2 linked regions of the Homo sapiens genome follow. The protein of the gene in region 2 purifies or fractionates together with the protein of the main gene of each other region. This does not show direct contact. Each region holds a gene or a part of one and is shown on either strand. Other genes may lie near its edges. The genes, in order: TUBGCP4 and SLC38A4.

What was found.
Region 1: the proteins of SLC38A4 (region 2) and TUBGCP4 purify together in Homo sapiens (affinity purification with mass spectrometry; one large-scale study listed by BioGRID and IntAct). This does not show direct contact.

The regions. Positions count from the first base shown.
Region 1 is NC_000015.10:43,377,486-43,381,317, forward strand, and holds part of TUBGCP4 (gamma-tubulin complex component 4), read left to right. Parts: intron 1-361; coding exon 362-418; intron 419-2,598; coding exon 2,599-2,678; intron 2,679-3,832. UniProt on the Homo sapiens protein: Component of the gamma-tubulin ring complex (gTuRC) which mediates microtubule nucleation.
Region 2 is NC_000012.12:46,764,240-46,767,308, forward strand, and holds the end of SLC38A4 (sodium-coupled neutral amino acid transporter 4), read right to left. Parts: intron 2,564-3,069; coding exon 2,462-2,563; 3' UTR 522-2,461; downstream 1-521. UniProt on the Homo sapiens protein: Symporter that cotransports neutral amino acids and sodium ions from the extraccellular to the intracellular side of the cell membrane. The transport is electrogenic, pH dependent and partially tolerates substitution of Na(+) by Li(+).

The sequences.
Region 1 (3,832 bases), on a different chromosome or scaffold from region 2:
GGTGGCGTGCACCTGTAGTCCCAGCTACTTGGGAGGCTAACGTTCTGAATCCAGGGGTGGAGGTTGCAGTGAGCTGGGATCCTACCACTATACTCCAGCCTGGGTGACAGAGTGAGACCCTGTCTCAAAAAAAAAAAAAAAAAGAAAAAAGAAAAAAAAGAAACTGCCTCTCTCTGCCATCCTCTTCCTATCTGCAGCGAACCTCCACATCAAATTGCCTTAGGATGCTGGATCTTGACTGTTCTGTGGTATTGCCATTTTATCTTAAGTTGAACTATTTAGAAACAAAAGCATTTCCCAAGTTGATTTTTTTTCCCTTACATTTGATTACATACCCTTCTAATTATTCTCTACTTTGCAGTTCCAGCTTCTTTTTCCCTCTGTGATGGTTGTAGTAGAACAAATTAAAAGTCAAAAGGTGAGAACTTTCCTTATTCCTTTTGCTTTGCTAAGCACTGAGGGAATATTACTAATTAATTTTGCTTTACATTATTTTTCGAAGACCCTAGTTTTTAGTAGTTTTTATTTATTCATTCATTTAACAATATCTGCTTGGTTATCATGTTAAGTGTCAGGAATGCAAAAGTATGACTCTGCCTTTAAACACCTCCTGGTCCAGAAGGTAGAGGAAATGTTCATAGATGTTCCCAAGAATGTTGTTGGGGTAAGAAAAAAAGTGCTGTGGATGTTTGCAGGTGAGAGGAACCTGCAGTAAGGTTTTAGAACTGTTGGGTGTGAAGCAGAAAGTTAATTCTTAGGAAGAAGGTAATAGGTTTATGGTTAGTGTGCTGGCAGTTTTCTGAGAATTTTGAGATCAGTGAGTGAAAGCCAGATGTTTAATAAATATGCCTATTCTTATCACAAGTTTTTATCAGGTGTATTGAGAAGTTAGGAGAATGTCTTTCTGGGCAGAGTTAATAAGTCTGAGGAATAAATGCTTTGAGATTTCATATTAGAAGAATCTGCTGTCCTATTGAATTGGTCCACAATTGGACCAAGTGGACAAATGGATTAAACATCTTTAGCTCAAGTCGTCATTTTTTTTAAGCTCTTTATTTGTGCCTTAGCTTATTAGGGGTGTTCATTTTCATTAATGTAACTAGTAAACCAGTTAATCTGCCACATTGCTGCATCATTTTTAACTGTGTAAGTGTAGAAACAGTGCTCTGCTATGTTCATGCTGTGCCAGCAAAGCCAGTGGTGGGTGCTCATTGGCCCTTCAAAGCTGATTGTCCTCATCAAATAACAACATCCAGCTTTTACTGTCACTGGCTGTGTACTAGGCACTGTGCTAAGTGCTTTAAATACATTATCACACACAATCCACTAAAGGGCTAAGTTGGTTAAGGGGTGTGCCCAGTGTCACACAGATAGTAGTAAATGGGTTTATATCCCAGCTCTATCTGGCTCCAAAGAGTGTGCTCTTAACCACTAGATTAAACTATCTCCCAAAATAAAAGGAGACATTCTAGGCAAATAGAGTTAATGAGGACAGCATAAGGGAGCCAGGCCTAGCTGCACGTCTCAGTTGGCCTTCAACTTCCGCTGGCTATAGGAAGGAGAGTGGAAAATAGGGGGATTGCAGATGGCTGAATCTTCCTCCCTGCCAGAATAGTGGTAGAGAAACTAGTGTACCAAGGCTCTTCAGAGTTTTTAAAATCAGGTGGTCAAAATTCTAGGTTTGGGTTGAGAATGGAGATTGATTGCAGACAGGCACAAAGGCGCTTTTTGGAGTAGTGGAAATGTTATAAAACTGGATTGTGGTAATGGTTGCCCAGTGTTTGAAATTTACTAAAAATTGTTTATTAGTATGCTTAAAATGGGTGAATTTCATTGTAAATTATACCTCAAAGTGGTAAAAATAAAAGTCTGGGGACCGGGCATGGTGGCTCACGCCTGTAATCCCAGCACTTCGGGAGGCCGAGGCGGGCGGACCACGAGGTCAGGAGATTGAGTCCATCCTGGCTAACACAGTGAAACCCTGTCTCTACTAAAAATACAAAAAAAATTAGCCAGGCGTGGTGGCGGGTGCCTGTGTCGCACTACTCGGGAGGCTGAGGCAGGAGAATGGTGTGAACCCAGGAGGCAGAGCTTGTAGTGAGCCAAGATTGCACCACTGCACTCCAGCGTGGGCGACAGAGCAAGACTCCGTCTCAAAAAAAAAAAAAAAAAAAAAAGTCTGAAGAACATAGAGGCAGAGGATTTTTGAAAAAGTATATACCTTAGAAGTAGACTGAATTGGGCCTTAACTTGAAATAAAAAGCTTTCCTTGGCTTTGGTGTTCCAACTCTAAATGATTCTGGTTGCTTTAAGTGCAGTGGTTCTCACACTTTACTGTGCATTAGAATCACCTGGAGGGCTTGTGGAAACACTGAGTGCTGGGTTCTAACCAAGAGTTTGCATGTCTGATGAGTCTCCAGGTCATGCTGCTGATGGGAGAGAGGTCCCTCTTTGAGAACCACTATGTGTAAATCTTAGGAGAAAGTTTATCCCCAGTCTCTCCTAGATTGTGCCCTCTTGGTTGAATATGGAATAAGAATGTGTCTTGCATGGACTCTTAGAATGGAATCCAGTTTGACAAGGCCGTATTTTCCACAGATTCATGGTTGTCAAATCCTGGAAACAGTCTACAAACACAGCTGTGGGGGGTTGCCTCCTGTTCGAAGTGCACTGGAAAAGTAAGTCATGGCTTAACTGGGAATTGGTGGTGGAGGTGGGTGGTCAAATTATTTGACTTCTCACATGTTTTATTTTCAGGTCATTTCAGGTTTCCCTCTTGGGAAGGTTATAACCAGGATAGAAAAAGCTCCATGAGCAGAGGAGCCCATGTAACCTTTATTATGGCTCAGGCCTTGCAAAAAGGGCTATAGAGTGTTGAGTGACAAAGCCAGGATTTAGGTGCCTGGATGACCTTGAGGCAATCTTTTTAAATGTTTAGATCCTGTTATCCTTGCAGGAATTCCATTACATGTGCCAGATGTTGCTTGCTGTGTCTAAACATGTGTATTTGAGTAGCTGGTATTTTCAAATTGAAGGTCCTTAAAAATGTTTATGCTTTATAATCCCATAATGCCACTCTTGGGAATTTTATCCTAACAAAACTATTTAATAGAAGAAAATAACTATATGCACAAACGTGTTCATTGCAATGTTGTCTACTATATCAGGAAATTAGAAAATTACCAACAGTAGAAAAAAATTTAAATGATGATATATTCACTTGATAGACTATAAAGCCACTAAAAGTGTAGGTACTATAACATGTAAACTATTTTATATAAATATGTACTGACAAATGATACAAAATTGTATTTATCTTGTGATTACAACAATATGAAAACATGTAGAGTATAATCAAAGACTGCCTGTTTGAGCTTTCCATTTATCCATTTTCCTTATTTTAAAAAAACTGTGACATTCATTGAAAAATTATAATAGATGATCCCTGAGGCCACTCACAACTCTGTTTTGTTCTTTTTTTCTTATTTTATTTTAATTTTTTGTAGAGAGAAGGCTTTGCTATGTTGCCCAGGCTGGTCTCGAACTCCTAGGCTCAACCGATATTCACATCTTGGCCTCCCAAAGTGTTGAGATTACAGGTGTGAGCCACCGCACCCGGCCACTCACAACTCTTAATCTCCACTCTAACCACTGCATGAGTAAATCCTCCAGAACATTCCTTAGGGACTTAATTCTCTATTATACTTTTGTGTATAGAATATAAAATCTAATGTAGATGATACTATATATACATGTTTGTTCTGTGTTTGCAGGGACCAAACTTTACAGACCACATACTCAGAAATGCATAAATGTAAATAGCTTCACATTT
Region 2 (3,069 bases):
TGTAGGTAGTACGGGTGGAAATGAAAATGGTAGAAACACTGTGGAAAACTATGTGGAAGTTTCTTATAAAGTTAAGCATATACTTACCCTGTGATCCGTCAATCCCCCTAATCGTTCATTCATAATCAATCCTTAGCACTCACATGTTTTCCCTGCCCCCATATTTTCTCTGCTCTTTATTTTACTATTCTCAGGTTTCTTCTATTCTCTCATTTTCTATCTTCAATGGATTCTTTCAAACTAACCATAAAAGACTCATTTCTTCCACATTCATTCTAGGTGGTATATATGTGATGCCAAAATTATAATCATCATAATAATTTAGGATTAAATATCTATTTTGCCAAAATAAGATGGCAATTATTTTCAGGATGATGGCTATAGATGTTAGTTATGTGTCAAAGGTAACAATGAAAATGGAACATAAACCAATATAAGAAAGACAGTATTTGGATTTTAAATTTTGTTTCATGGACAAATAACACAACATTCTTTAACAATAGATCAAAAATCACATCATAGTCATTTGAAAAGTTCATTTATTATATACCAATATACACTTTCTGTAATAAAAAAGAAGCCTCCCAATACATTGAGCCATCTTATAAATGAAATAAGAAAATAAAATTTTCATCTGTTTACAAATGGGGTTAAATTAATCAGCACAAGCTATCATATGTATGTCTGCCCTGCAGTATATATGAATTTTAATCCTGGTTATGAAGAAAAAAATGGTGCTTTATTATTTGGCACTATAGGATGCTCTTGAACATTCAGAAGATACCTTTTTCCACTTTTTATTTTTGTATACTTTTTAGATGAGTGAAAATGTAAATATATCCTAAAGATGCTATTTGGCAGATTTTTTTCAAATAATAGTAGCTCAAAAGTACGTGTATGATACTTGTACTTCATAATTGGCTTTACTAAAATATAAAATACACAAGTGATCTTACTATGATTTGAAAAAAAGGTAGTGAACTCCAGAAGTTTTAGGCTGTGAGTAGGAATTTTTAAATCCATTTTATGTAAGTTTGTTATAGAAGTGAGCAAGAATGATCGTGTGCATTTCTTCGTAGTGTTAGCACTTATACTTTTACAGAGAACCACTCAACACTGTATTAAATGGCCAATGAATGTCAGCAAACACCTGTGTGAGCTAAACTGAACTAAATCCTATTTTAGATATGCTAAATTAAAAGAACAACTTTAGTATGATAAAAATTTGCAAAAAGAAACTTATTTTCTTGTAGATCATCCTATTATTGTAAATATTGAAGAAGAGCATTGCCAAACTATATATAACTTAGGTTTCAAATTTAAATTATCCCCAGACATTTGTAGACAGATACATATGAATGGATTTTCGAGCCCACCAACTTAATTCCCTGCCCCCACCCCCAATAATATAAATGCTTTGACTGTGAAGAAAGAAAACTACACATGTAAAAAATAAAAATCAAATGTACCTTACATTAACATTCTGATGACTACAGAATAAGATTATATACATAAACATATAGCAAATCACAGTTTCCTGCACTGAATGTTTATCAAATAAAAATGTATCAAACAATACTGGGTAGTGTATCTCCACGATTGTGGTCTTCTAAAAATTCTGAATGAGGATGGAAGACGAGAGGGAGAGCATTGTTCAATGACAAAAGTATGACAAGAGGATTTAGGAATAACATGAAAAAGCAGATGCTTTCTAGAACAGGCAGTTTAGCTATAAGCATTATTTTTGTTGTTGCTCTATGATTGAAATAAAGCCCCTCTCTATATTTAGTGTTTTAACATTTAAATATAGATGTTTTAACATTTACAAAAATCTATTGAATATAGAAGTCACAACTCAATGTCACAAACAGGGTGGGCAAAATATTATTTTGCTGTTGACAATAAGATGCTCTAGACTGGTGTTTGACCATTCATGTACCTTACAGAAACAGAAACAGTTCCTAAGACATGCCTTTTGCCTCTGTTAGTAAACAGACCAGAGACTTTGGTGCAAGACTGAGAGAAGACATTAAATGGTGATAGCTTTGCCACCAGGGCATTTTTGTTTGATGTTCTGAGAATGCAAATGTTTGGTACTTTTTTAGGGGGTGCAGGATGAGGAGACGGCAGGGGAAAGAGTACTATCTGATGATTGTTACATGCAGTTACCCTTATTCTGCTCGTAAAGCAGCAAAAATACACCTTCATCATCTCACACTGCTCTAGCAAAACCTGGGTAGAAATGTGCACCACAGGTTTTATTTTAAACACATACACAACCATCCTTGACAAAAACAGTGATTTTCCTCTTCTGCAGGTGCCTGGTGATATTACTGGTAAACGTCTTTGGAATCTTCCTGTTATTTCCTATGAATAACATTCCAATCAAGATAATTCAAATATCTTTTGGAGTATAACTTGTAACCATTTCCAATAGAAAAAGAAAGTATTTTTCCTTGTGTTAGTGATGCTTGGAATTTGGAGGATCATAAATCCAGTCAATTATAATGAGTGCCATGCTTCCAATCATGAAGAATATTCCAACCACAAGGAAAATTAAAGCCTGTAATTCAGAGAGACTCTGTTAGGAGCACAGAAACCATACTTAGTACAATTTGTTTTTTAGTTGTTTACATAATATGGCAATCTGATCTATATATTGAGCCATATTATTCTTAATATCTCAGATGCCCAGGCCTAACCTATCAGTCAATTTAGAATCCTAGTTGAAGAAAGAAGAGGAATACAGTGGAGAGATACAACCTACAGGTTCAACAATGGAGTAATAGTTAATTGATTTAGTACACCAAGATGATGGAATACCCTGTGATTATTAAAAATCAAGGGACAGAAAAAGATTCAATAATCTAGAGAATGCTTACAATCTTTTAGGTGAAAAAGAGCAGGTTAAAAAAGAATAGCATATATGATATGATTCTAATTTTATAAAGCAAACAAAACCAAAAGCTTAATAGATGTTGCAACAAAAAGTGTATATATGTGTGTGTGTGTGTGTGCATACATATAATATACACACACATATATAAGGATATATGTACATACCTACAT